Linked DNA regions of Homo sapiens: region 1 is linked to region 2. The links come from fine-mapping of genetic effects on gene expression. Tissue or cell type: whole blood. Region 2 holds a variant in brackets; the other region holds the start of a gene. All regions are shown on one strand. Distances are between the middles of the regions.

Evidence for each region. PIP is the estimated chance that this variant, and not a neighbour inherited with it, causes the effect.
Region 1: it holds the start of LINC02284, and the variant in region 2 is fine-mapped to the expression of LINC02284 in whole blood (INTERVAL, PIP 0.93).

The regions. Positions count from the first base shown.
Region 1 is chr14:56,305,938-56,316,396 of GRCh38, reverse strand. LINC02284 (long intergenic non-protein coding RNA 2284) reads right to left here and starts at 5,408. Exons shown (of 7, transcript NR_187174.1): 1 at 5,303-5,408.
Region 2 is chr14:56,385,621-56,396,079 of GRCh38, reverse strand. All of the region lies in intron 6 of LINC02284 (long intergenic non-protein coding RNA 2284), which reads right to left. Among named protein-coding and RNA genes, the nearest start is that of LINC02284, 80 kb to the right of the region's middle. The variant T/C (reference allele first, on the strand shown) is at 5,858.

The DNA.
Region 1 (10,459 bases), 80 kb after region 2:
TTTCCTCATCACGTTTGCCCTCTTCATTCTTTACTCCAAAAAGCTATTATAATTTAACCCTTCTTTCTATGCTTAATTTCATACATGGACATGTTATGTCTCACCCAAGAGCATGATGTTTTAAAATTAGGCACTAAAAACAAAAGAAATCACTTAAGAATTTTCTTGAAACTAAAATAAGAAAATGCAAAAATAGAAGGTCCAAGTCTGAACATGTTTTGATGAGATGAAGTTAACTGCTAAATTGCTAAAGATTGTATTGGAGATTATTTCTGGTAATGTTAATATTGTCCATAATTTTGTAAAAGTAAGTTCTTCATTAAAGAACTCTATAGCAAATGGGTATTATTTACATAGAAATTCCAGAGTTCCAATATCTATTTGCCTGGGATTTAGATAACTTCTTTTCCAAACACGATTAGAGAGAGGAAATAATAAATTATGCCAACATATTGTATTCAAAGGCTTTCTTCTTTCCACATTTTTACTTTCACTTCAGTTTTGAGACTATTTTTTTATTTGCATATTATTCTTCAGCCCTACGTTTTTGGTTATGGGAGTATCTTAAAATGTACCTGGGATTTGATTGATTGATTGAGAGACGGGGTCTCACTCTGTTGCCCAGGCTGGAGTGCAGTGGCATAAACATGGTTCGCTTGCAGCCTCAACCTCCTGGGCTCAAGCAATCCTTCCTCCTTGGCCTCCCGAAGTTTTGGTATTACAGGTGTAAGCCACTGCACCCAGCCCTGGGATTTGTCTTAAACAGGTATGATTGTAATTGCCCAGGCAGGTTCTTCTTGCCCACTGCCCAGAAAAGCCAATGCACTGAGGGCAGCAAGAGTGTTCACAGCAAGGAAAGATTTAATTATTGCAGGCCAGCCAAATAGCATGATGGGAGATAATTCTCAAATCTGCCTCCCTGAGAATTTGGGGACTAGGGTTTTTCAAGGCTAGTTTAGCAAGCAGGGGACTAGGGAATGGGGAATATTTGTTGGCTGGGTTGGAGATGAAATCATAGGGGGTCGACCCTGTCTTGTGCTGAGTTAGTTCCTGAGTGTGGGTTACTGGTCTGGGTGGTGCCAGTTGGTTCATACAGAATTGAAGATCTGAAACATATCTCAAACACCAGTCTTTGGTTTTACAATAGCAATGTTCTCCATAGGGGCAATTGGTGAAGTTATAAATTTTGTGGCTACATCACTCCTGAGTAGTAAGTAATTTTTAAAAAGCAAGTTATAAAACAATGACTGGTTAGGGTTTATACCTACATCTTAGCAGAATTCAGGTTCCTATCACAATTGTAACCTTGTGGACTTTCATTAGTTTTAAAAAGGTGATTTTGGTCCCCGAGTAAGGTGGGGGTTACTTTCAGGAAGGAACTGCTATCATCTTTGTCTTAAAGTTAAATTATAAACAAAATTCCTCCCATAGTTAGCTTAGAATGAGCAAAGGCTTAGCTTGTGAAGTTAGAAGCAAGATGGAGTCAGTTATGTTAGATTTCTCTCACCGTCATAATTTTGCAAAGACAGTTTCATCACAGATATAGAGACAACTGTCTTTGAAAGAAGAGTTTATTACTTACAGGCTCCAAGAGAAGGGGCATGCCATATTATGTCAGGCCTCCGGGGAAGTACCCAGGTCAGTCAGGAAGCAGAAGGAATGAGGGAAAAGCCTGGTCTAGAGTCTTACTGTGGTTTCCATGGGAGAGAAAGGGTGAGGCAGGGAAGGCAGGTTTGAGCAAGCTTAGAATTGGATAGTTTGGATAATGTGGGCAGGCTCTGGCCATAGGGGTGGTCTCTAATTGTCTGATGCCCGGCCTTGGGTGATTTGGCAGTGGAAATACTGGCTTGGTGTATTAGAGTGAGATAAAGGTGGTGGTTGAGGATATGGGCTTTGGATTGGTGGGGTTGTATACAAAAGGTGTGCTCACAGGCAAGTTGTCTGCTATCTCTAAAAATTAGCTAACCCCTGGAGGGGCAGTCCCTCCCCAGGTCCACACAGCCCCCACAGTGTCAAAGCATCATAAAATATGAAAAAAAAGAACATGATTAATACAGGGGTATCATCTCTGAAATTTTCCAAGCAAATCTTTAAACTAAGTTTGGCTATATAATTCTTTTTATTTAGTGATAAAATAAATGCTTTATAAGGAAAAAAGTTGTGAAAAGAATCATGAAAATTGCTACCATTGATGAACACTTACTACGCCTAGCAATTGATGAAACAGTACATATATGACCTCAGTTGAAGTATTAAACTACAAAAGAAAGCTAAATGAAAAAGAAAAGCTTAAATTACCTCCTGCCCTTATTTACTTGTTGTTTGCAAGAGGCAGATCCAAGCAGCTTGGAAAGAGGTAAATCAGCATTTTCTTCTTTCTAGACAGAGCTGAGTCAGCCTCCCAGCACTCACGTGTGGTGTTGTGAGGCTGCTCAGTTAGGAGCATAACCTGCTACATCGGGCAGTTAACTGGCCAATTTGAATGAGTTCTGCCATTGTTTGGCAGCTCAGCTCTGACAGTGACTCTAACAGAAAATCCCTCCACATATGTCCTCAGTTTGTGGGTAAGCGTTCTTAAACTGGCAGTATGCAGGGAGTTACTACCTGGCATATGTACCACCACATCCCAAACCATATCGATGGCAGGTATCATTTTGTCTGAGCAAGGACGCAACCTCAGAAACTCTCAACAGAGTGTTCTAGGAAATTCACACCCAATTTTCATAGGTTGGCATAATAGATGAAACATATTTATTTGCCATCTGATGTGGCTTTGCTGTCTCCCCACCCAAATCTCATCTTGAATTGTAGCTCCCATAATTCTCACATGTCATGGGAGGGACCTGGTAGGAGGTAATTGAATCACATTGACAGATCTTTCCCATGCTGTTCTCGTGATAGTGAATAAATCTCACGAGATTTGATGGTTTTATAAAGGGGAGTTCCCCTGCACCCGCTCTCCTGTCTGCTGCAATGTAAGATGTGTCCTTGCTCCTCCTTTGTCTTCCACCATGATTGTGAGGCCTCTCCAGCCATGTGGAACTGTGAGTCTATTAAACCTCTTTTTTCTTTATAAATTACTCAGTCTCGGGTGTGTCTTTATTAGCAGCATAAGAATGAACTAATACACCATCTCTATACAGAAGGATGAAGACTCTATCTCTATACATAATTATAACTACTTTTTAGAGTATTGTAGATCAAAAGATAATCAGTTACTATTCATTGACTTAAGAAAATCAGACATAATTTGATGTTTATATGTTTATAATGGATATTTGTCCACGAAATGGGATAAATATGAAATGAGACATTCAAAAATGAAATGTCTTATGAAATGTACACTCCTGCTGATGAACTCAAGCCTTTTCCCAGCTAGCTTCAGATGGGCATCTATTGCTTTGGACTGCACAACATCATCCCCTAGTGCCACTTTCCTCTAATACCAGGACCACTCATTCCCATGGGTACCCATTTCCATAGCTGTGGTGTGGTTTGATTGGAACTGCTGTTGCCAACCTTGCCTCACTCCAACCTCCCCACCCCCCACCCCAAGCTGTACAGAGGTAGGCACCTGGTCCAGCTAGGTAACAATATCCCTCCATCCATAGTGACTGCTTCTAGGCTGAGCCAGTCACAGCTCTTCCCATCAGGGGAGACCATTTCTGCAGGAGATGCTAGGCTAGGAGGGTGATATGGTTTGGCTCTGTGTCCCCACTCAAATCTCATGTTGAATTGTAATCCCTGATGTTGGAGGTGGGGCCTGGTGGGAGATGATTGGATCATGGGGGTGGTTTCTGATGGTTTAGTACCATCCCCCTAGTGCTATCTCATGACAGAGTTCTCCTGAGATCTGGTTGTTTGAAAGTGGGTAGCAACTTCCCCTCCACCTTCCTCCTGCTCTGGCCATGTGAAGACCATGCCTACTTTCCCTTCCCCTCCTGCCATGATTATAAGTTTCCTGAGGCCTCCCCATAAGCAGAAGCCGTATAGCTTGCAGAACCGTGAGCTAATTAAACCTCTTTTCTTTATAAATTACCCAGTCTCAGGTATGTCTTTATAGCAGTGTAAGACCAACTAATATATAGGTATTAGTTGGGTATAAGCAAGGGGCTGGTGGTGGTCACCTTTCCTGTCATGTGAAAGACTGCAGGTATAATTATGTGAGCACAGTCAAGAGACAAAGGGAGAGAGACAGCAGCAGTGATGGGGACAGAGTCTGAGCTCTTGGATTCAGCTGTTCCTGAAATCAGAGGCACACTGAACTTCCCAATCCCAAGAGGCAATAAGTTCCTTTTGTGTCCCCTTAGGCTAGTTCAGAAATTGGATTTCTGAATTTGCAGCTGGCAGAGCTCTAATTAATACAAAGACATGTTAAAAAAAAACAAAGGGATATTTTTTACTGTCTTTATAGTGCTATTTTGTGGTGTTCTGACTGTTGCACAGGTGCTTGTTATTGAAGAGATAGATACATGCTCTATATAAAAGACATTTACTGAGTGCTTACTATTGCTAGGCATTATTCTAAGTACTTCCCAAACAGTGAGTAAATTAATTCTCATAAAATCATTTGCAGTGGGTATTACTAGCAATGTTATACAGATGCAGAAACTGGGACAGTAAAACAGTAAAGAAACTTGTCCTAGGTCACAAAGCCCGCAAGTGGCAGAGCTGGGATTTGAACCTAGGCAGACTGGCTTGAGTCTGTGCTCGTAGCCACTATGCTAACACTTACAACTTGCTTTTGTCCTAGTTTTATATTTCATAATTACATCTAATAACAAAAGAGAACAAGGCACCATATACCTTCTCCGTTCCATGCCTTGAATGCTGGCCTCTAGCTGCTGTTCTTCCAAGGTGAGAAAGAGACCTAGTTATACTTTACAGAGAATTTGAGAATCATGGTCCTTTAGACTTGGGAACATTTTGGAAGAAACACTGTCCATAAGCCTCACCTAAATTGGCACAACTGAAAATGCCCATCTTTTCATAAGTCTATTGAACGATGTTATTCAACCAGTGATAAATTAACCCCAAAATACATAGGTGAACTGCAGTATATAACATAGAATAAATATATCTGAGAAAGTCAAATGTTGTGAGATGGGAAAGGGTACTCCTGCTGCTCAAGGATTAGAGTTGAAAGCAGGAAAATCTGCTGTGCTTAACTGGGTAAAGTCACAGCATTTACATTTCTTGTTGATAGCTAGTGAAGATTCTCCTTGAAGCTCAAGTTCTCGCTGCCCTCTGTCCCAGTCCCCTGTAGAATTGTCAAATCCCGCTTTTGCACTTACTTGATTACCTGCTGAAATCCTGAAATTGCCACAGCTGTTGCCATTTCAGCTCCTTGAATTTATGAGCACCAATGCATCTCCCTTGCATCTGCTTTGGCTGTTGCTTTTGAAAGGAGCGATCACACAAGGAGGGGTAGAGGAAGAGGCCCAGATAGTTCTGTGGCACTGAAGGCAGCTAAGAAAAGAAGGAACTCTTGACTTTGCGATTAGAATAGTAGCAACTGAGAACATTAAATGTGTTTATCTTTCTTCTGAGGAATGCCAAGTATTTTTTAAAAGAGAACCCTGACTCATCGTGCAGAAGCACAAGGACACACACTAAAAATAGTGGCGTGGTTTCTAACATCGAGATGCTCCGCAGCGGGTGACGAGAGGTTTGCTTCTAAATAGACAGGTAACCTACGGAGAGCATATGACGATCTTCTCTCTAAAGGAGTCTGTCAACTCTGTGGGATCTTCCTTTCAGATGACTGATGGGTACAGCAGGGTGGAGGTCGGGAAGGGGAGGCCAATGGATATGGAGGTGGTACTGTTTCCATAAGCATTTCTCTTCTTTCCTTAATGGAATCGACATACACTCTGGCTTCCGCAACGTCCTAGATTAAAGTGGCTTTAAGCCAAGGAGTAAGCCAGTCAGACACCCTTTACACATCCTCAGTTCTAGGTGGGCTCTGGTCTGGGACCAACTATTCTCCCTGATTGATCTGTGCCCTGCCACGGCCTCAGAGAAAGACTGATTCCTGCGTATTCACTAAGGACAGTAAGATGCTTCTGGACAGTCAGATATTTGGGACCTTGATATTCCCCACAGTTGAGTCCACTGGCTCTTTATGCACAGGTGACCAGCACTGACCGAAGCTTCTCAGAGTGAAACTGAGCATCTTTCCAGGTGCCTGCACCGCCAAAGCCGAGACCATCTCTCCATTTCCACACACAATGGCACCTTCAGAAAGCAGGGAGAGGATGTACCTCCCTGCCAAAATCAATCCTGGTCAACTCCAAGTGAGTCTATAAGCCGTACTAAAATAAAGCTGATTTAACAAATAATGGCTTAACACATGGAATCACTAAATGTTATGCTTTAATGTATTTGTAAGAAAATCTCACCATTTGATGTTAAAAGGAGGAACAAGATGAATTTTGACACGCATTTGTCAAATCTTGAGGAACATTAACTTTCTGAGCAGAGAAGACCTTTTTAGAGCCCCCAGATGGAAACTGGATAAAGTCCTTTAGACTTATGAAAAGCTACATGCTTGAACACAGCTCCTGCCCTGTGGTTTCAAATACAGGCTTAGGACTTCTGCCTCTGAATAGGCTGTCGGGCAGCAGACTGATGCTCTCACCAAAAATAACTAGAAAGGCCACATAAAATAAAATTAAATTTAAAACTCGGTTAAAAGACATAAGAGAACTGCTGATGCATAGGTGACTATCAAGGCCACAGTTTGAAGAGGGTAGAATCACAGAGGGGTGAGTTGTTGATCTGTTGATCTGCAACTTCTTTTATTCGGGGACATTTGCAGAGTTTAGATGTAGAGTAAGAATCCGCCACTGGAGCAGAGAAATCAGCAGAGCTCTAGATAGCCTTGGAGGGTTCAAAAGACAAAGTTGAAAATATACGAGGCCAAGATCCTGGTGAGAGGCAGAAAACTGACCCTGGTTTTCTCTTCAAGAGGTTAAGAGAGCAAAAGGCTAAAAGATTAACAGGGCAAAAGGCTAAGTGGAAAGACTGAAAAGAAAGTGAAGTTTTTGGCAGGGTCACCATGCTTAGGGAACAAGAATTACGGTTCAGGACTCACAAGGGGAAGGGCCCTGGTGAATAAACCAGGGTCTTGGCTGAGGCCTTAGGAGCCTAGATTTCACTCAGCTCAGTGAAAGTTGATTATCCCCTTCTCAGCTTGCCTAACAAAAGAAGGTGTACTCCCCTTTGGTGAAGAATAACATCTGGAGCCTCCATACTTTTCCTTTTAATGGATAATGCGCAGCGTTCAATCAAAACTTTTGGGGGTCCCAGCAGCATGCCTGGTAATGGCTGTGATGACAGTTTTCTAATATTTAATTTGATATTAAGTGCATATCTAATTCATAGAACTTGGGCTTCCTGGAAGCACGGTTGCCACAGGCAGTCTGGGAAACAGTGCCAAGGTGTGTGAGTCTGTGTCTGTGTGTATAACACTGGCTTTCATACAGGAGCTGCTCATTAAGGGATAAGCTGCAAGCCAATCATTTGTCAAAGATAATTCTCATTCGGTTTCATACCAAGGAGTGAGGAAGATTTTTTTTTAACTGTGAAAACCCCACAAAAACAAAAAGAACAACAAAAAAAGAACAAAGAAGCCGCCTCGCATCCTACAAATACAAGTCAGTATTCCTTCTGTGTTCTCTTGTAGCATGGTGCTTCATTTTACTTATCTGTATTCTTCCCAAGCTGCAAATTTACTAGGGCCACAGACTATATCTACCTCAGTCACACAAGTCTCCTCCAGTGGCTGGTGCAGTGCCTGGAGTACAATGGGGGCTTAATAAATATTTTTTATAGAATTAATGAAGGAAATAAATAAAAGCAAACTGAATGTCAAACTTACTTTGGGAAAACAGTCACAATACAGTTGTGATCTGCAGTTGGGTGCACAAAAGCCCAATGTGAACTATAGCAGAAAGTCTCTTATCTGATGTAGTTAGAAAGGTAGTTATTCAGGCCAGGGACAGTGGCTCACACCTGTAATCCCAGCACTCTGGGAGGCTAAGGTGAGGATCCCTTGGGACCAGCAGTTCAAGACCAGCCTGGGCAACATAGTGAGACCCCATCTCTAAAAAAAAAAAAAGTTAGCTGGGTATGGTGGTGTACACTCATAGACCAAAGTACTCAGGAGGCTGAGGTGGGAGGATCATGTAAGCTCAGGAGTTTGAGGCTGCAGTGAGCTAGGATCACGCCACTGTACTGTAGCCTGGGTAACAGAGGGAGCCCATGTCTCAAAAAACAAAACCAAAAAAATTTTTTTAAAAAAGGAAAGAAAGGTAGTTTTCAGTTCATTGAAAGTAATTTATAGCAGGGAACTTATAGAAAATATATACTTATTTTGCATTTTACCCTTCATACCTCATTTTAACTTAAACACAAATGCACATTTGTATACTAATATCTTGACAGTGTGCCAAAGCCTTTTGAGTATAGGTCCGTTTACAAGAGTCAAGTGATCCTTCTTGATGATCTTTCTTGAATGAACAGCATTCACAATGAATCATTTCCAATTTAAGCTTTTTTAAAGTGGAGTGAGAACCAAAAGGCAGTAGGGACAATCTGAGCAAAAACTTCACAAAGCCCATACACTTTCCAATATTTTCCAGTTTTCTTTCCCATACTTGAAACCTTTTTTTAAAAGCAATTTGCTTAAAGTCCTCTCAAAGTATTCAGCTTAATTTTCAAAGGCAAAACAACTCTTTGATACTCATATTTATGAGATTATGTGACATTTAATTACCTAATATTAACAGTATGACTGATATAATAAGTTTGGAAACAACTATAACTGAATCCTGGTAAGCATACAACTCAACTGGCAGAAGCAGAAGTATGCGGGTTAGGAGAAGGTAGCAAATTACTAGGTGGGAGCATGGGCATGCCATGGGCATTCATTAGTATGTTTCATAGAGGCGTGGTCAATCCCGTAAGAAAGCAAAGTAGAGGTCATATAAGAGAGCTTATAGAGAAAGTGTTATTAAGGACAAGGAGCAGCTTCCATTTGCAAAGGGTAAGTATTCCAGAGTATTTAAATATATGATAGTTTAACTATTAATTAAGTTAAACTGCCTTAACATATTAACATTTTATAGTAAAGAATGGAAAATACATACATCACCATTACATGTACATATATAGTAATACATAGTCAAATATTTAATTGCTTTTAAATATATTTAACATAAATTATATTTATACCATATTCAAAAGTCTTTTTGAAATATTTTAAATTTTCCTTTGCTATCTTCTACCAATTTAGGATGAAAAAGGGGGGTTTGATAGGTAGCTAATCCTGTTTGAATTATCAGAAGCTCCAAATTAATGCATTACAAATTGCATGTGTAATAGGTGGTACAGCAGGCCACTTTTAGACAACAGGCTCCTGGAGAATAGAGCTAGCACTCAATGAATATGCTGTACACAAGACTCTACCAACATTAGTTCTCCATAAACCTCATTTTTTCTTTTCTTTCTAAACATTCAGACCTGTAATAAGAATGCAGCTCAGGTCTATCCACTTAAATGCTGTGCCAAGATATCATACTATAGATATTTTTGCACTTAGTCTATTAGGTAATTTTTGCCTGACATGAGTATTAACGAGAACGGATATACTTGTTAGGTATTGCAAATAATTCAACTTTAAAAACATTTTCTATTACTTCTCTTTCAAGCTTCTTGCTCGGACTAAAGAGTATTAAGATTGCAGGTGAGCTATGAATCATTTTCTCCAACAAACACACACACACACAAAAACAGATGAGACTGATATAAGATTATAACTATTTCCTCTAACACTAGACATTATTTTTTTTCTCATTACACAATTTTACCCATTTAAGCTTATGAAGCTTAAATATTGCTGCAATATTGCTTTTCTCTACTTGCATGTTAGGAATCCATGAGATTTTATTTGATTTTTTTTTCAAAAGTGTTGTGCACATATATAACAATTTGCAAACCATTGATTTGGTCCAATTTTATTATCTCTCAGAGTAAAAAACAGACAGGGATTAAGTAACTTGCAAAAGATCACAAAATTAATTAGAGGCCACACCATTAACAGAAACTGACACTTATGTCAATGATCTTCCCATTGATCACACTGGCTTTGTGTTTTCTAATTTCAGCCATGATGATTCAGACTAAACTAGTCATTGAAATCTTCATTTTCTGAAGCAGTTTTCATCCTAAAGACTCATGAATGTTAAGTAGAGAATCAAATCCATTAAAAGATCTAACTACCATCAATTGGTTTAGATAAAGAAGGAGTTTTCATCTAATGGAAATGTTGATGGAAGGCAGGAACTTGAAATTTGGCTAGTTTATTGGGTTTCATTGCATAAATTATGGCAATTTAAATGAGTTTTTATTCTTACCCTATACAAGAAACTAACAAAAGAACTGGTAAAACTTTTGG
Region 2 (10,459 bases):
TAGAAAGCTGAAACTGGATCCCTTCCTTACACCTTATACAAAAATTAATTCAAGATGAATTAAAGACTTAAATGTTAGACTTTAACATTTTAGATGACTACTTGTCAATTATTTTGTAGAGTGTTTCTATTTTCTCATGATTAAGTTGAGATTTTTGCATTTTTTTGCAAAAATACCACAAAAGTGATGCTGTGCCCATCTCAGTGCATCATATTGGGGGGTACATGATGTCAATATGTCCTATCAGTGGTGATGCTTACTTTGATCATTCAGTTAAGATGGTGTCTGCCATGTTTTTCCATTGTAAAGTTTTCATTTTTTTTTTTTTTACCTAATAAACCAATAGTTTGGGGACAATACTTTGAAGCTACAAGTATCCTGTTTCCTATTAAACTTTAGTCCACTGATTTTAACATCTGTCAGTGGATCTTGCCTACAATGATTACTGTTTAATGTAATATCTGCCTAGTGGTGATGTATTTCCTGCATTCATTCTACATTTATTAATTAGAATTCCTCTGTAAGGAAAAGCTGTCCTATCCCTTTCCCCTGTTTATTTATTTATTCAATTATTTATATTAGTATGGATATTTATTTTATTTTATGGGTTACAATCCATTATTATTATTGTTATTTTGTTGCTCAAATTGTTCTCGATTTGCCCATTGGGAGTGCCTTCCAATTGGCTTGGCTGTGATGTGCTTTTGTCATGCCTCATCCTATTTTGAGCACTTCCTTATTTTCTGGGATGGCAACATGTTTCAGAGGCTCATCTTCTGCTTTCCTCGCCCTAGCCCTGGAATCAGCAACTTCTCCAAGAAGCTCTGGCTCCTCTTATTGGAAAAGAAACATCTTGGATTTAAAATATAAAAAATGAACTCAAACATAAAAATATATTGCGGATGCATATTTGGGTCATATAGTTTTTCACGTTGGAACCTCTGATACAAGAGATCACAGAGATAGCAGGAAAGGTCAGAAGGTCGACTCTCTACTTGGAATTGCTAAATACATATTCTAAACATGTAGCAGAAACAATAGCCTTGAAGGAAGAGATTTTTTCATTACTCAAGCCAGAGCCAAGTTTCTGGGCCAGACAATAGATTTTTTTTTTTTAATTAATAAGCTTTGTGTTTTAGAGCAGTTTTAGGTTCACAGCAACATCAAGCAGAAAGTATAGGGTTCCCACATAGCTCCTATCCCAACTTACACAGAACCTCCTCCACTACCGGCATCCCCCACTAGAGTGGTACAATGGATGAACTTACATTGACATATGATTGTCACCCAAAGTCCACAGTTTACATTAGGGCTCACTCCTGGTGTTGTATGTTCTAAGGGTTTTGATAGATGTATAAAGACATGTATCCACCGTTTTGGTATCATACAGAGTAATTTCACTGCCCTAAAAATCCTCTGTGCTCTGTCTATTCACTCCTCCCTCCCCACAACCTCTGCCAGCCACTAATCTTTTTACTGTCTCCATAGTTTTGTCTTTTCTAGAATGTCATATACTGTAATTAGAATCATACAGTATGTGGCCTGCTCAGATTGACTTCTCTCATTTAGCAATATGCATTTAAATTCCTCTATGTCATTTCATGGCTTGATAGCTCATTTCCTTCTAGAGGTAAATAATATTCCATTGTCTAGATATACTACAGTTTATCCATTCACCTACTTAAGGACGTTTTGGTTGCTTTTAAGTTTTAACAATTATAAGTAAAGCTACTATAAACATCTGTGTGCGGATTTTTGTGTGGACATAATTTTTCAATTCGTTTGGGTAAATACTAATAAGTATAATTGTCAGATCATACGGTACGGCTATGTTTAGTTTTGTAAGAAAATACCAAACTGTCTTCCAAATTGGCTGTACCAGTTTGCAATTCCACCAGCAATAAATGGGAGTTTCTGTTGTCTTGTCTCACCAGCATTTGGTGTTGTCAGTGTTTTGCATTTTGGCCATTTTAATAGGTTTGCAGTCATATCTCAATGTTGTTTTAATTTGTATTTCTCTGATGAGATATGATGTAGAACATCTTTTCATATGCTTATTTGCCATATGTATACCTTTTTTGGTGAGATCTCTGTTTAGGTCTTTTGCCCTTTTTTTTTTTTTTTTTTTTTTTTTTTTGAGATGGAGTCTCACTCTGTCACCCAGGCTGGAGTGCAGTGGTGCTATCTCAGCTCACTGCAACCTCTGCCTCCTAGATTTGAGCGGTTCTCCTGCCTCAGCCTCCCAAGTAGCTGGGACTACAGGTGCATCCCACCATGCCTGGCTAATTTATGTATTTTTAATAGAGACAGGGTTTCACCATGTTGGCCAGGCTGGTCTTGAACTCCTGACCTCAACTGATCCACCTGTCTTGGCCTCCCAAAGTGCTGGGATGACAGGCATGAGCCACAGTGCCAAGCCTTGCCCATTTTTAGTTGGGTTGTTTGTTTTCTTATTCTTAATTGGGTTGTTTGCTGAGCTTGAAGGGTTTTTAGTATATTTTGGATAATAGTCCTTTATCAGACGTCTCTTTTGCAAATATTTTCTCCCAGTCTGTAGCTTGTCTTCTCATTCCCTTGACATTGTCCTTCACAGAGGAGAAGTTTTTAATTTTAATGAAGCCCAGCTTATCAATTATTTCTTTCATGTGTCATGCCTGTAGTTTTGTATCTTAAAAGTCATCTCCATACCCAAGGTCAATTAGGTTTTCTTTTATGGTATCTTGTAGGAATTTTATTGTTTTGTGTTTTATATGTAAGTCTGTGATCCATTTTTAGTTAATTTTTGTGAAGAGTGTAAGGGCTTTATCTAGATGGGTCTTTTTTAAATTTTATTTTTATTTTTATTTTTGCATGTAGATGTTCCAGTTGTTCTAGCAACATTTGTTGAAAAAACAAACAAAACAAAACAAAAAAGCACCACATTTTCTCCATTGAATTGCCTTTGTTACTTTGCCAAAAATCAGGTGACCAATCATGCAGGTCCGTTTCTGGACTCTCTATTCTGTTTCATTTGTCTCTTTGTCTGTTTTTTTCACCAGATGCCACACTGCCTTGATTACTGTAGCTTTACAGTAAGACAATAGATTTTTAAGAATACAGTACTCACCTGGCTGGTTCTCTTAAAGACAGTCCAGACAGCACGGTGCAGCAACAAAACAGGGGAGACGATGGGGCCAAAGAGGGCTTTCACATTTGTCTAACTCTCCTGCACACACACAGAAGGGAAGTTTGCCTTACTTCTGGATATATCAAGGGAGTGATATAAAGGGCCCCAGTGGATCTGAAGGAGCTTTTGGTTGGGATGAGGGATACACAGAGTACATGGACATGCTAATCTGATACCAAAGAGGAAACAAAGACACTGGGCTAAAGGTGTGATGTCCAAAGAGCAGATGGTGCAAGCAATATCTCAGTGAATGCCAGTCCATACTGAAGGCCACCTCCTCCTTCCCATTGCTAGAAGCTTCAGCCTTCCCTGCAACTTAGAGTATCTGTGGAGAAAGTGGGGGAGGGAACCTAAATACACCAAGTTTGTAAAGTTACAAAAAAATATAGAAAAAACTGACATGTTTTAACACACTTGTTAGCTTGGGTTTTGTTTGTTTGTTTGTTTGTTTTTAAGATGGAGTCTTGCTCTGTCACCCAGGCTGGAATGCAGTGGCGTGATCTCGGCTCACTGCAAGCTCCGCATCCCGGGTTCATGCCATTCTCCTGCCTCAGCCTCCTGAGTAGCTGGGACTACAGGTGCCCACTACCACACCTGGCTAACTTTTTGTATTTTTAGTAGAGACGGGGTTTCACTGTGTTAGCCAGGATGGTCTCGATCTCCTGACTTCGTGATCCGCTCGCCTCAGCCTCCCAAAGTAGCTTGGGTTTTAAAAGTCTCACCTAGGCCGGGTGCAGTGGCTCATGACTATAATCCCAGTACTTTGGGAGGCTGAGGCGAGTGGACCACGTGAGGTCAGGAGTTCGAGACCAGCCTGGCCAACATGGTGAAACCCCATCTCTACTAAAAATACAAAAATTAGCCCAGCATGGTGGCACATGCCTGTAATCCCAGCTACTCGGGAGGCTGAGGCAGGAGAATGGCTTGAACCCAGGAGGTGGATGTTGCAGGGAGCCAAGATCGTGCCATTGCACTCCAGCCTAGGCAATAGAGTGAGACTCAGTCTCAAAAAAAAGAAGTCTTACCTGCTGTAAAATCATGAAGCTAACTTAGTGCTCATCTATCAAACTTATACTGAATGAGGTTACTTGAATGTCTGAGTTCAGACTTCTAAGAGCATGAAAGGCAGCAGAGTTCTCTTGAAGGGCAGTAGAGCCTCCTTTTTGTTTTTTGTTTCGCACATTCTAGTTGTGCTAACCAAGAGAGATGTACCCCCACCCTACTCCAGGTAATCTTATTAAAACGTTCGCTCCAATTGTGTTGAGTCATGGCTCATTGGATAAGAACATTTAGATATTAGAAGTCCACATCATCTAAGGTCAAGCCTCCAGTGAAAGGAACATGGAGGTGATGCAATTATACTGATTTCTGAGCAGATGGCTGTTTTCTAGAGGGAAATGGTGCATAAAACACACAAATAATGAAAGACTTGAGAGAGAAATTCTTCATGGCAGTCGTGACTATAAAATCAACACAAAGGGACTAATTCACAGAATTGGTACAATGTTTAAAAGCACTAGGGAAAATTAGAGGTACTTGCTGCCCTGATGGGGCATTCTGCCTAGACTTGGAGGTGTAAGGGCATAGGATGAGGTGCAGGTATACACGTTTCTATATGTGGTATATACAAATCTCAGTTCACAAACCCAGGTGTGGAAAGAGTTAATACTTACAATGACCCCCTTTTCTTCCAGGCAATAGAAATTTAATTTCAGTCATTTCCGGATACCTGCCTTTCCCCTGTGATTGCATCTCAGTTTGAGGATTACACAGTGCTACTGAATGAAGGTTAGGAATGTAGGGCATCTCATCTAAGTTGGCTGCACTCTTCACTAGCATAGCTACTTAGATGGGACAGGGACACCTGCTGGTCATTGCCAAGTCATCCCTTTGTCAGACCATACCATAGTAACTCTGGATCTGGTTTTGAGTTGCAATACCTTGATGTCTCCATGCCATTCTGAGACCACAGAAAACTTGGTGGGACCATCCACAGCCATGTGTCACTTCCTTGGTACCCTTGGGTACACAAGTATAATTCTACTGTCCCAGTACCCCAACCTCACCATTCACAGGTCTACTCTGAGACATTTTCAAACTTATCTACCAGGGCAGAGTAGACAGCCATCCTTACTTGGGGGTCTTGCCTCCTTTCTCGAGTCTACCAGAGAAGGTGAACACAGGTTTCTTCTGTACTACAATCCCGAAACATATCTGGAGTTCCTGTTGTGGAACATTCTCCCTGGTACCTACCAGGAAGAGAGCTGGGTGCAGGCTTTTTCATCCAGGACTCATTACCATCTACGACAGGGGTGTTCAATCTTTTGGCTTCCTTTAGCTGCATTGGAAGAAAGCAAATTGTTTTGGGCCACACATACAATACACTAACACTAACAATAGCTGATGAGCTAAAACAATTGCAAAAAAATCTCATAAAGTTTTAAGAAAATTTATGAATTTGTGTTGGGTGACATTCAAACCCATCTTGGGCTGCATGTGACCTGCAGGCTGCGGGTTGAACAAGCTTGATCTAAGCTCTCCTTTCTTCTGTTTTCAGAGGAAGAACAAGCTTTCTCTGTTTTCCTGGTTGGTTGATGAAGGGAGCTTGGGGCACACTTTGGCCTAAAGGAGGGAGAGCCATGTGGATTCAGGAAGCTTCTTTTTTATTATTCATCACTTCTCCCACATCTA[T/C]TGTAAACACTCCAGTTCTGTTCTCCTGAGGCCAAGACTTTAAAAACTAAAAAGCTAATTAATTGACTCATTTTGTGTTATTTGCTTTCTTCCCAGTTATTCCTTTCCTTAGGTAGTGATGCCTACATAGACAGAAGGATCAAGGGTTACAAGAGGGGTGAAAAACTATACATATATTCTAGCCACATAAACACTACTGTGTTTCCCCAGTATCGTGATCCCTGCCAAGGTCAGCTACAGCCCACAATGTACACTAGGAAAAAATCAAACAATGTGGACTTAGCAGCTGGATTAACAGTGGGGTCAGCTCAGGAGACCTCACCTTCGATTCTTTGGTTCATTCTCCGTTCTTAGTCTTCTTGGAGGGCCCCAGTTGTTGTATTTTAGAAACTAGGACTTCATCAATCAGATATCATGCTAAAATGAGTCCAGCCCTTTTCTTGTCTCCTCTCACTTTGCCTCTTCTCCTTTCTCTTTTTCTTCCTGCCTCTCCATTTTTCTTTCTCTACTCTGCTTTGTCTTTCCTCTCCAAAGGCAAATCAAAGGACATGATTCCAGGACTTTTGCAGGAGATTCTCATTTGCTTTGTTGGAGAAATTATTGTTCGGTCTGACATCTGTGGCCCCAGCATCATACCCAGTTAGTGCCTCTTTTCACCTTTGATACTGTTCAGATTTGAGTGATGAACTATGTGGCCACTCTAGTCATTACAGACCAGCTTATCCTTAAAAATATTTGACCTCAGTTGAAAACTATTTAGATGTCATAACAATTTAAACAAATATGGACATACTGTTAGGGCATGCTCAAAAAAGTCAGGCTTCAGGAGATGGAGCAAGACGGCCGAATAGAACCCTCCAGCGATGGTCTCCGCAACAGGAACACCAAATTCAACAACTATCCACACAAAAAAGCACCTTCATAAGAACCAAAAATTAGGGGAGTAATCGTAGTACCTGGATTTAACATCATATTAAGAAAAGAGATACAGAAGGGGGTAAGAAAGACAGTCTTGAATCACTTATGTCACCCCCCCACCCATCCTCCAGCAGTGGCCATGTGGCATGGAGAGAAAATCTGTGCACTTGGGGAGGGACTACGCAGCGATTGTGGGACTTTGCATTGGATCTCACTTCTGCCCTATCACAGTGGAAAACAAAACAAGGAAAAATTCAGCCAGCACCCACAGAGGGAACATTTAGATGAGCCCTAGCCAGAGGGGAATTGTCCATCCCAGCAGACAGAAACTGAACTCTGGCAAGCTCCACCACCATAGGTTAAAGTACTCTAGGATCCTAAATAAACTTGAAAGGCACTCTAGGCCACGAGGACTGCAATTCCTGGGCAAGTCCTGGTGCTATGCTGGGCTCAGAGCCACTGGACTTGGGGTGCACACAACCTAGTGAGACACCAGCTGGGAGGGCTAACAGAGTGCTTGCATAACCCCTTCCCCAACCCCAGGCAGTACAGCTCACAACTCCTTCCCTATACTTGAGGATACAAGAGGGGAAAGTAAAGAGGACTTTGTCTTACAACTTGGATACCAGCCCAGCCACAGTAGAACAGAGCACCAGGCAGAGTCATGAGGACCCCATTCCAGGCCCTAGCTCCTGGATGACATTTCTGGACACATCCTGGGCAAGAGGGGAGCCCACTGCCCTGAAAGAGAGATCTAGGCCTGGCAGCATTTACCACAAGTTGACTGAAGAGCCCTTGGGATTTGAGTGAATATCAGTGGTAGCCAGGCAGTACTTACCACATGCCTAGCCAGTAGTGGCCACAAGGAAAAACTCCTCTGCTTGAGGAAAAGGAAGAGAAGACTGGGAAACACTTTGTTTTGTAGCTTGGGTGCCAGCTCAGCTGTAGCAAAATAGAGCACAAGGTAGCTTCTGAAAGTTCCCAACTCCAGGCCTTGGTTCTGGGATGGCATCTCTGGACCCTCCTAGGGCTGGGGGGGATCTTGCCATCCTAAGGGAAGAACAGAAGCCTAGCTGGATTCACCACCTGCTGGTTGTAGAGCCCTTGGACCTTGAATGAACATAGGCTGTAGCCAGGCAGTGGTCACCAAGGGCCTTAGATGAGACACAGTGCTGTGCTGGTTACAGGTCTGACCCAGTGCAATCCCAGTGATGGTGTTTGCATCACCCCTCCCCCAGCTCCAGGCAGCTCAGCGTAGAGAAAGAGATTCCATTCATTTGGGGGAAAGTAAGAGAAAAGTATCTCTGCCTGGTAACCCAGGGATTTCTCTCAGATCTTACCCAAGGCCACCAAGGCAGTAGTACCTCTATGAGTCTGCAAGAGCCACAGCATTGTTGGGCTTGGGATAATCCCTAATCCAGATATGGCTCTAGTGACCAAAAACTTAGATCATAACACCCAAGTCTCTTTGAATACTTGGAAAGCCTTCCCCAGAAGGACAGGCATGAACATGTCTGCAAAGACTACAATAAATACCTAATTCTTCAATTCCTAGATGTGGATAAATATCCACAAGCATCAAGACCATCCAGGAAAACATAACCTAATCAAATAAACTAAATAAGGCATCAGGAGGTCAATCTCTGATAGACAGAGATACGTGACTTTTAAGATATGGAATCCAAAGTAGCTGTTTTGAGGATGCTCAATGAAATTCAAGATAATACAGAGAAGGAATTCAGAGTTCTATTAGATAAATATAACAAAGAGATTTATGTAATAAAAACAATCAAGAAGAAATTATGAAGCTCAAAAATGCAATTGATGTACTGAAAAAAGCATCAGAGTCCCTTAATAGCAGACTTGATCAGGCAGAAGAATTAGTAAGCTTGAAGATAAGTTATTTGAAAATACATGGTCAGAGGAGACAAAAGAAAACAGAATAAAAAAGAATAAAGCATGCCAGAAGATCTAGAAAATAGCCTCAAAAGGACAAATCTAAGAGTTATTGGCCTTGAAGAGGAGGTAGAGAGAGAGAGAGTATGGAAACTGTATTCAAAGAAATAATAACAGAGAACTTTCCAATACTAGAGAAAGATATCAATATTCAAGTACAAGAAGGTTATAGAACACCAAGCAGATTTAATCCCCAAAAGACTATATCAAGACATTTAATAATCAAACTCCCAAAGGTCAAGGATGAAGAAGGAATCTTGCTACTTTTAGCAAGAGAAAAGAAACAAATCACATACAAAGGAACTCCAGTACATCTGTCAGTAGACTTATCAGTGGAAACCTTACACACAAGGAGAGAGTGGAATGGCATATTTAAGGTGCTGAAGGAAAAAAACTTTTACCCTAGAATGGTATATCCAGTGAAAATATCTTTCAGGCATGAAGGAGAAATAAAGACTTTCCCAGACAAACAAAAGCTGAGGGATTTCATCAGCTCCAGACCTGTCCTACAATAAATGCTAAAGGGAGTTCTTCAACCTGAAAGAAAAGGCTATTAATGAGCAATAAGAAGTCATCTGAAGCTACAAAACTCACTAGTAATAGTAAGTACATAGACAAACACAGATTATAACACTGTAATTTTGATGTGTAAACTACTCATATCTTAAGTAGAAAGACAAAAACATGAACCTATCAAAAATAATGACTATAACAACCTTTCAAAACATAGACAGTATAATAAAGATATAAACAGAAACAACAAAAAGTTAAAAAGTGGCAGGATGCAGTTAAAGTGTCAAGTTTTTGTTAGTGTTTTCTTTGCTTGTTTGTAAGTTTGTTTGTTTATGTAATCAGTGTTGTCAGTATAAAACAATGGATTATACAATATTATTCCCAAGCATCAAATAAAATAAATACAACAGATACACAAAATATAGAAAGCAAGAATTTAAAACATACCACCAGAGGAAATCACCCTCACTAAAGGAAGGCAGAAGGGAAGGAAAAAAAAAGGAAAAGAAGACCACAAAACAACTAGAAAATAAAAGCAAAGTGGGAGAAATAAGTGCTTAGGTAATAATAACATTGAATGTAAATGGACTAAACTCTCCAATCAAAAGACAGAGAGTGGCTGAATGGATAAAAAAACAAGACCCAATGATCTGCTGCCTACAAGAAATACACTTCACCCATAAAGACACATGTCAACAGAAAACAAAAGGATGGAAAAAAATATTTCATGCCAATGGAAACCAAAAAAAGAAAAAAAAAACAACAACAACAGGAGAAGCTATATCAGACTAAATAGATTTCAAAACAAAAACTATAAAAAGAGACAAAGAAGGTAATTATATAATGATAAAGGGGTCAATTCAGCAACAGAATATCACAATTATAAATATATATGCATCAAACACTGGAGCACTCAGATATACAAAGCAAATACTGTTAGAGCTAAAGAAAGAGACAAACCCCAATACAATAATAGCTGGAAACTTCAACACTCCACTTTCAACATTGGACAGATTATCCAGACACAAAATCAACAAATATTGGACTTAATCTGCTCTATAGAACAAATAGACCTAATAGATATTTTCAGAACATTTCATCCAATAGCTATAGAATACACATTCTTTTCCTCAGCACATAGACCCTTCTCAAAGATAGACCATATATTAGGTCACAAAACAAACCTTAAAACAGCCAATAAAATAAAAATAACAT